Linked DNA regions of Homo sapiens: region 2 is linked to region 1. Evidence: fine-mapped expression QTL. A gene starts in region 1. The other region holds a variant in brackets. All regions are shown on one strand. Distances are from middle to middle. Region 1 holds the start of NUP214 (nucleoporin 214). Region 2 overlaps NUP214 (nucleoporin 214).

What was found.
Region 2: its variant is fine-mapped to the expression of NUP214 in whole blood (INTERVAL, PIP above 0.99).

The regions. Positions count from the first base shown.
Region 1 is chr9:131,123,272-131,127,664 of GRCh38, reverse strand. It overlaps NUP214 (nucleoporin 214), which reads right to left and starts at 2,079. Exons shown (of 36, transcript NM_005085.4): 1 at 1,916-2,079; 2 at 1-141. The coding sequence starts at 1,960. It also overlaps the pseudogene RNU6-881P. RefSeq lists an enhancer at 1,881-2,180.
Region 2 is chr9:131,202,479-131,206,871 of GRCh38, reverse strand. All of the region lies in intron 30 of NUP214 (nucleoporin 214), which reads right to left. Among named protein-coding and RNA genes, the nearest start is that of FAM78A, 72 kb to the left of the region's middle. RefSeq lists an enhancer at 2,110-2,664. The variant A/G (reference allele first, on the strand shown) is at 2,361.

The DNA.
Region 1 (4,393 bases):
AAAAATCTGCAAGCCACTGGCTCCACCAGCGAAGACCAGACCATATTTGTTGGACACAGCAAGCAGACTCGAGCGTTCCTTGGGCAATTCCTCAGGGGAGTCAAAGATTCTCACCTTCTTTAGCGCTCTAAACTGAAAATCCTGTTGTGAAGAATCAAAACGAGATCAATTCAATAAAGAAAGAAATTAAAACATGTTATATTCAGTAGACCCAATTTCAGTACAACAAAAATATGTATTACTGAGACCAAGGTCTGTCTCAATTGTCTTTTTTTCTTTTTTGAGATGGAGTCTCGCTCTGTCGTCCAGGCTGGAGTGCAGTGCAGCGATCTTGGCTCACTGCAACCTCTGCCTCCCAGGTTCAAGCGATTCTCCTGCTTCAGACTCCCAAGTAGCTGGGATTACAGGCACCCGCCACCATGGCCATCTAATTTTTGTATTTTTAGTAGACACAGGGTTTCATTATGTTGGCCAGGCTAGTCTCGAACTCCGGACCTCAAGTGATCCATCCACCTCAGCCTCCCAAAGTGCAAGCTCACAGGCATGAGCCACCACACTCGGCCCTCATTTTTTTCTGATATGGAACACTTCATGAATTTGTCTGTCATCCATGTAAAGGGGCCATAATAGTCTTCTCTGCATGATCCCAATTTTATATGTGCTGCCAAAGGGAGTGCGAGATTACCATCTTCTAAGTCTGTGGTTCTATTAATAAAACCTTTTTTTCTTCTACCCCAGCATATCTGAGGAATATGACACAACCCCATTAGGTGGCTCACCACAGGTGGTGATTCTCAAAAAATAATCACTATTCTAGGACAGCACGGTAGCTCACGCCTATAATCCCAGCACTTTGGGAGCCAGAGGAGGGCGGATCACGTTAGGTCAGGAGTTCGAGACCAGCCTGGCCAACATCGTGAAACCCAGTCTCTACCAAATGATATAAAAAATTAGTGGGGCGTGGTGGCAGGCGCCTGTAATACCAGCTACTAGGGAGGTTGAAGCAGGAGAATCGCTTGAGCCGGGGAGGTGGAGGTTGCAGGGAGCCGAGATCATGCCACTGCACTCCAGCTTGGGTGACAGAGCAAGACTCTGTCTCAAAAAAAAAAAAAAATCACTATTCTAAACATGGTATTACTATGCCCTAAATGCATTTTAGTGATTTATTGTTCACACAGATGCCTAAAATCTTCCTGCAACTTACTTCTTTTCACTATTTAAAACAGATGTAGCCCGTCTGTTGTACCCTCATTCTGTCAGAACCCATATAAGAACTATTAAACACACCATCCTGAAGTTATCCCTGGGGGACTCCCACGTTGCTATCACTGGGACCACTTGGCCCTCCCTTTAGGTTCCTGACTTTAGGCTGATATACCGAGGTCAAAATAGTCTTCCTAGTCCAATCAACTAAAGGTTCTGCAGGATGGATGACCTTCCCTGACTCTACGTTAGGCAAGCCCGTATCACCTTACAGAAGTACTGGGAGAGCAAAGGTCTTAAATGATGCTGGCTTTCAGCCCCGCGTCAAATGTGACTTTAGGGAAATTACTTTCCGAGCCTCAACTTACTCCTCTACGTTAACGACTACTTCGTAGGGCTGCCGCGATGACTACCACAGTGCCTGGCACACAGTCAACACTCAATAAACAGCAGTTATTGCCACTATTGTGACCGCCCCAGGAAGTAGCTAGGGTAACTCAACAGCCGTGCACGAGACCAGGATGGGACTGGGAAACTGCATTCGGTGGGGCTATCACGCCAGCGGCGCGGCAGACGCGCTGGTGAGAGCTGTGAACGCGGTAAACTGTTCAAGCAGGAGGCGGGACAGCCAGCACCGCGCTTCGCCTTTCAGCTGGGCTCCAAGGCAACGCCAGGACTAAAGAAGGGAGGGAGGCCCCGGTTAGTCTCTGACCTTCATCTCCCGCTCGGGAATCATGGCATCCATCTCGTCTCCCATCGCGCCGCCCTCAGTGTGTCGAAGCAGCCAACGCTGCCTCCCACGGCCTTGCCCACGGAACCCAGGCCGCTCGACAGCAAACTTCCTCCCCTCAGCGCCAGCGGCGCGCAGTTGACCTCGCATTTCCGGCGCGCTTTGGTGACGTCAAGCTTGGTCAGAGGAAGCCGCGGAACCTAGCGAAGCCGCGCGTTCTTCCGGCCGCCGCTCCCCATTGGCCAGCTCGGGCTGAGTAGTGGCGTGGCCGTGAGGTCCCTGCGCCTGCGCCCTGGATGGTCCTGGTGCCGCTCCCGCCTTCGCAGCCAGCGCGGGCTTACCTAGTGTTAAGTCTCTCTTCTTGGGTGGCCCACGCCTAAGCGACCTATGCTTCTTGTTCTTCTGAAATCTTACAGTTCCCCTTAGATGTAGGTTGGCTATTGGTAGCTTCCGATTCAGATAAGTTTGGAACTTGACAGATGTTTTCGGGGGGCTGCTTTAGAGAGAGGCTTTGGACTATGCAAGGGGAGGAAGGGAGGTTCAGAAAAACGGGGTCGGGGGGTCGGCAGGGACGACTCTTAAAGTGTGGAAGGTGGAAGGCTGGGAGGGGAGATTAAAGGGCACCGAAGACCAGCTTTGTTTGCTCCTATCAAGGTGATCCTTTCCAGAGCAAGAGCCATATCCATGTCTAGTCGCACGAGTTTGTGCCAAGTCCTTTGCAAAAACCTTCAGATGTGGGATCTCATGTAATCTTGAAGACATCTTAGTCGTCCTAGGGGTTATTTATTTAATTGATGAGACGCGGGTGGCTCATGCCTATAATCCCAGCACTTGGGAGGCGGAGACAGGAGGATTGCTTGAGACCAGGAGTTTGAGACCAGCCTCGGCAACATGGCGAGACCCCGTCTCTATAAAAAACAAAACAAAACCACAAAAATTAGCCAGCAGTGATGGCATGCGTATGTAGTCTCAGCTACTCGGGAGGCTGAGGTGGGAGAATTGCCTGAGCCCAGGAGGTTGAGGCTACAGGGAGCTGTGATTGCACCATTGCACTCCAGCCTGGGTGACAGAGCCAGGCCCTGTCTCAAAAAGTAAATAAAAGGCCGGGCGCGGTGGCTCACGCCTGTAATCCCAGCACTTTGCGAGGCCGAGGCGGGCGGATCACGAGGTCAGGAGATGGAGACCATCCTGGCTAACACGGTGAAACCCCGACTCTACTAAAAATACAAAAAATTAGCCGGGCGCGGTGGCGGGCACCTGTAGTCCCAGCTACTCGGGAGGCTGAGGCAGGAGAATGGCGTGAACCCGGGAGGCGGAGGTTGCAGTGAGCAGAGACAGCGCCACTGCAGTCTGGCCTGGGCGAAAGAGCGAGACTCCGTCTCAAAAAAAAAAAAAAAAAAAAAGTAAATAAAAATAGGCTGGGAGCAGTGGCTCACGCCTGTAACCACAGTACTTTGGGAGGCCGAGGTGGGTGGAACACCTGAGGTCAGGAGCTCGAGACCAGCCTGGCCAACATGGTGAAACCCCGTCTCTGCTAAAAATACAACAATTAGCCGGGTGTGGTGGCGGACGCCTGTGTTCCCAGCTATACAGGAGGCTGAGGCAGGAGAATCGCATGAACACAAAAGGTGGAGGTTGCAGTGAGCTAAGATTGTGCCACTGCACTCCAGCCTGGGTGACAGAGTGAGACTCTGTCTCAGAAAAAAAAAAAAAAAAAAAAAAAAATATATATATATATATATATATACACACACACACACACATATATATATACACACACACACATATATATATATATACACACACACACATACACATACATAATAATAATTGATGAGGTAAGGGAGGCACAGAGAAGTTGAGAAAATTCTCCAATAGCCCTCAGTCAGAAAGTGGTGGTGACAGGATTAGAATTGAGATCGTCTGGATAAGGCTGACTGATGGTATTAAAGTCCTTCATAGAATACATTTCTGTAGTGAATTATAAATGCTCTAGGACAGAGGTTCTTTTTTTTTTTTGAGACGGAGTCTCACTCTGTCACTCATGCTGGAGTGCAGTGGCGCGATCTCGGCTCACTGCAAGCTCTGCCTCCCGGGTTCACAGCATTCTCCTGCCTCAGCTTCCCAAGTAGCTGGGACTACAGGCGGCCGCCACCACGCCCGGCTAATTTTTTGTATTTTTAGTAGAGACGGGGTTTCACCGTGTTAGCCAGGATGGTCTCCATCTCCTGACCTCGTGATCCGCCCACCTCAGCCTCCCAAAGTGCTGGGATTACAGGCGTGAGCCACCGCGCCCGGCCGACAGAGGTTCTTAACTTGGACCTCATGGGTTGGCTCCAGGGGGGTCGGATTGTGCCATTTACTGTTTGGCTTGCAGCACATTGCTTATTCAAGCCTACTTTTCAGTTGTGAAACAAGGATGACATAATAGAACCTGTCTCTTGCAGGGAGGTGGTTAGG
Region 2 (4,393 bases), 79 kb before region 1:
GGGGAAGTAACAATATGGAGTTTATCACAGTGATGTTTTCTATTTCTTTGGCTCAACATTGTGCTTGTTAGTTATACATGGAGCTGAAATCTGCTCCTTTTCATAGCTGGATAATATTCTACTATGAGACCAGGTATGGTGTCTCATGCCTGTAATCTCATCAGCACTTTGGGAGGTCCAGGTGGGAGGATCACTTGGGCCAGGAGTTACAGACCAGCCTAGACAATACGGTGAGACCCCATCTCTACAAAAAACTGAAAAAATTAGTTGGGCGTGGTGGTGCACCTGTGGACCTAGCTATTCTGGAGAACTGATAGGAGGACTGCTTGAGCCCAGGAGATCAAGGCTGCAGTTACCTGTGACTGTGCCACTGCACTCCACCCTGGGTGACAGAGTGAGATCCTGTCTCAAAAAAAAAGAAAAGAGGGTTGGGCACAGTGGCTCATGTCTCTAATCTCAGCACTTTGGGAGGCCGAGGCAGGCAGATTGCTTAAGCCCAGGAGTTCAAGACCAGCCTGGGCAACATGTGAAACCCCGTCTCTACAAAAAAATACAAAAAATTAGCCAGGCACAGTGTGTGCACCTGTAGTCTCAGCTACTTGGGTAGCTAAGGCAGGAGAATCACTTGAGCCTGGGAGGCAAAGGTTGCAGTGAGTGGAGATCGCATCACTGCACTCCAGCCTTGACGACAGGAGTAAAACCCTGTCTCAAAAAAAAAAAAAAGAAAAAAGAAAAAAATTCTATGTGGAATAATGTAAATTTACCTACCCATATGAATGCTGACAAACATTTGGGCTGCTTCTAGTTGTAAGCTATTATAACAATGTTGCTATGAATACACTTGTATCCTGATACATACGTGCACGAATTTCTTTAAAAAACAAATTTAGGCTGGGCATGGTGGCTCATGACTGTAATCCCAGCACTTTGGGAAGTCGAGGTGGGCAGATCACCTGAGTTCAGGAGTTCAAGGCCAGCCTGGCCAACATGGCGAAACCCTGTCTCTACTAAAAATACAAAAATTAGCTGGGCGTGGTGGTGGGCACCTATAATCCCAGCTGCTCGGGAGGCTGAGGTTGAATCCAGCAGGCAGAGGTTGCAGTGAGCCAAGACCATGCCACCACACTCCAGCCTGGGCAACAGAGTAAGGCTCCGTCTCAAAAACAAAACAACAACAAAAAAACAAACCTAGGCCAGCTATAGGAGCAGTACATTTTATTTCTCTGTAGTATTGGGCTGTATGAATATACCACAATTTATTTATGCATTCTTTAGCTCATAAGCATTTGGGCTGTTTCCTGTGTTTAGCTATTAAGAATATTCTGCTGTGAACATTCTTATCAATATCTTTTGGTGAACAAAGGCACTCATTTCTGTTGGTTACATATTCAGGGTAGATTTGCTGGGCCAAGAGGGATTTTGTATATTAGTTTTGATACTGCCAAATGGTTTTCCAAAGTGGTTAATATGAATTTACACTCTCACTAGCAATATGAGTTCCCAGTTGCTCTTCTTCCTCACCAATACTTGGTACTGTCAGCCTTTTAATTTAATTTGGGTATAGCTGTCTTTCTTTTTGAACTATAGGAAAGCTTTACATATTCTGAATACAATTACACTGTTGGTTACATAGGCTACAATTTTCCTATTTAATGGCTTGTTTTACCCTAAAATTAAGAGGGCCATAATTTTAGTGAGGTCAAATTTTCCTTCTTTCCAAACAGTATCTCTTAGAATTTCTTTTGTTTTTTGAGATGGAGTCTTGCTCTGTCGCCCAGACTGGAGTCAGGTCTGCTAGACATAAATTATTTCAGTATTTGCTTATCTGAAAAAAAGTCTTGATTTCTCTTCATTCTTTATAGATATTTTTTTGCTGGATTTAGAAATGCTAGGTGGCCAGTTCTGGCTTTCATGGTCATTGCTGAAAAGTCTGCTGTCAGTCTGCCTATGGCACCCTAGAAGATAATCTGTCTTTTTTCTCTAGTTGCTTTTAATATTTCATCTTTGGTGTTCTTCAGTATCACTAGGACAGGTCTTAGAATCAGTTTCCTTTTATGCATTCTCGTTTGGCACTTGTTGGGCTTCTGAATCTGTGGATTACTATTATCGATTAGTTTTGGAAGGTTCTGTCTTTCTCTCTTCTCCTTCTGGGACTCTGATTAAATGTGTGTTGGATTTTCTCCTACAGGATTTTTTCTCTTTTGTATCTTTCATTTCGCTCTCTGTGATGCATTCCAGGTAACTCACCTTAACCTACCTTCTAGTTAGGTCAGCAAACTACAGCGCAGGGGCCAAATCCAGCTCACTGCCTGTTTTTGTAAACAAAGCTTTACTGAACACAATCATGCGCATTCGTTTAC[A/G]TATTGTCTACGGCTGCTTCTGCACTACAATGGCAGCGTTAAGTGCTTCTGACAGAGGCTATCGATAGCCCTCAAAGCTGGAAACGCTGACTACCACATTCTGTTCTAGAGCACCACTGCTCCTTTCAGTGGGTCTAATCTGCTCCAAATACAGCCACTGAGTTTACACCTGAGTTTAATCATTACATTTTCCTAGAAATTCTATTTGGTTCTTCTTCAAATTTGCTATGACACTTCTTAAGATTTTATATTCCTTACTGGTATTTTCAAGTTTGTCTTTGATTTCTTCTAAACTCTGTAAGCCCCAGCTGATTTACAGTTTAGGTAGTCTGTGCAAAGGTGATTTCTGACGCTTATTCTGGCTCTTGCTCATAGTTCCTGGTTTCCTTGTGTGTCTCATTGAGGGACAGAAATTACTTGTAAGAGTAATTCGAAGGCTAAGTAAAGTTCCTTTCCTTCAGGGTGGGCCTGCGCTGCCTCTGCCAGACACCTGGAGGCAGCATCACTCTGGAACCATATCAGTCTAGTCAGGGGCTGAGACCTGTCAACATGGAGTCCCAGCTGAAGGGTCTCTTTTAGACTCCCCACTTTGTGCATATCTTAGTTGGTGATTTTTGTCCCTTTACCTTTGGGGTTATTAAATAGAAAATTCACATTTTCTCAGATTAGTAAATGCTGTCAGGGCACAACTGGCTTCTGGGCTCCACTTCTCTAGGTCCCCATTTTCCTTTTGGCTTGGTAAAATACCTTGTTAGTTTATTGGTGCTTTTAAAGACAAGGTTTTTATGTTTTATCTAGCATTTTTTAGTAGTTTTCAGTAGGGAACTTGGTTCCCTTGAATGACTTAGTCCTCTACTACCAGAAACTGGAAATCAGAAGTTTCACTTCTCTCTTAAGAAAGATCACTGACTAGGACAGAGCCTATCTTCAAAGGAAAACAGAGATGATAAAGAAAATTTCTTCCTGAAGATGTATAAGAAACATATATTATGCCTACCACTTTATTAACTGCCGGACTAATACAAATTCTACCTTCAGAAAGTCACAATCCTTTCTGATAAATTAGGGTATCTTTCTTCATAAGGGCTCCTTAGGAGGTTACTATGATCTAAATGATCTAAATGCAGCCGGTGTCTGATGTAACAGTCAATTTAACCTCTCTGGGCCTTCGGTGTCCTCATCTCTTAAATGGCGATAATAATCGCACCTATCTTATGGAGGTGCTGTGATGCTTACATGAGTTAATTTGTATAAAAGACTTAAAATTGGCTGGGTACAGTGGCTCACGCCTGTAATCCCAGCACTTTGGGAGGCTGAGGTGGGCGGATCACGAGATCAGGAGATCGAGACCATCCTGGCTAACACAGCGAAACCCCGTCTCTACTAAAAATACAAAAAATTAGCTGGGTGCGGTGGTGGGCACCTGTAGTCCCAGCTACTCGGGAGGCTGAGGCAGGAGAATGGCGTGAACCTGGGAGGCAGAGCTTGCAGTGAGCCGAGATAGCACCACTGCAGTCCGGCCTGGGCAAAAGAGCGACACTCGGTCTCAAAAAAAAAAATAAGTAAATAAATAAATATAAATAAATAAATAAATAAAAGACTTAAAATTATGCCTGGCACATAGATAACTGCTAGCTACATAAAATCAAACAGCTCAGTTCACCAAAAGGAGTCTCTGGGCTACATATAGCGTAGCAGAGGGGATATATATGTTGCCAAATCTTCTTCCTCTTTTTTCTTTTTAAACAACCACTTAAAAATATAAAAACTGGCCAGGCACAGTGGCTCACGCCTGTAATCCCAGCACTTTGAGAGGCCAAGGCGGGCAGATCACCCTGAGCTCAGGAGTTAAGAGACCAGACCAGCCTGGGCAACGTGGCAAAACCCCGTCTCAACCAAAAACACAAAAAGAAAAAAAAAAATAGCTGGGTGTGGTGGCACAAACCTATAGTCCCAGCTACTTGGGAAACTGAGGTGGGAGGATGACTTGAGCCTGGGAGGCGGAGGTTGCAGTGAGCCAAGATTGTGCCATT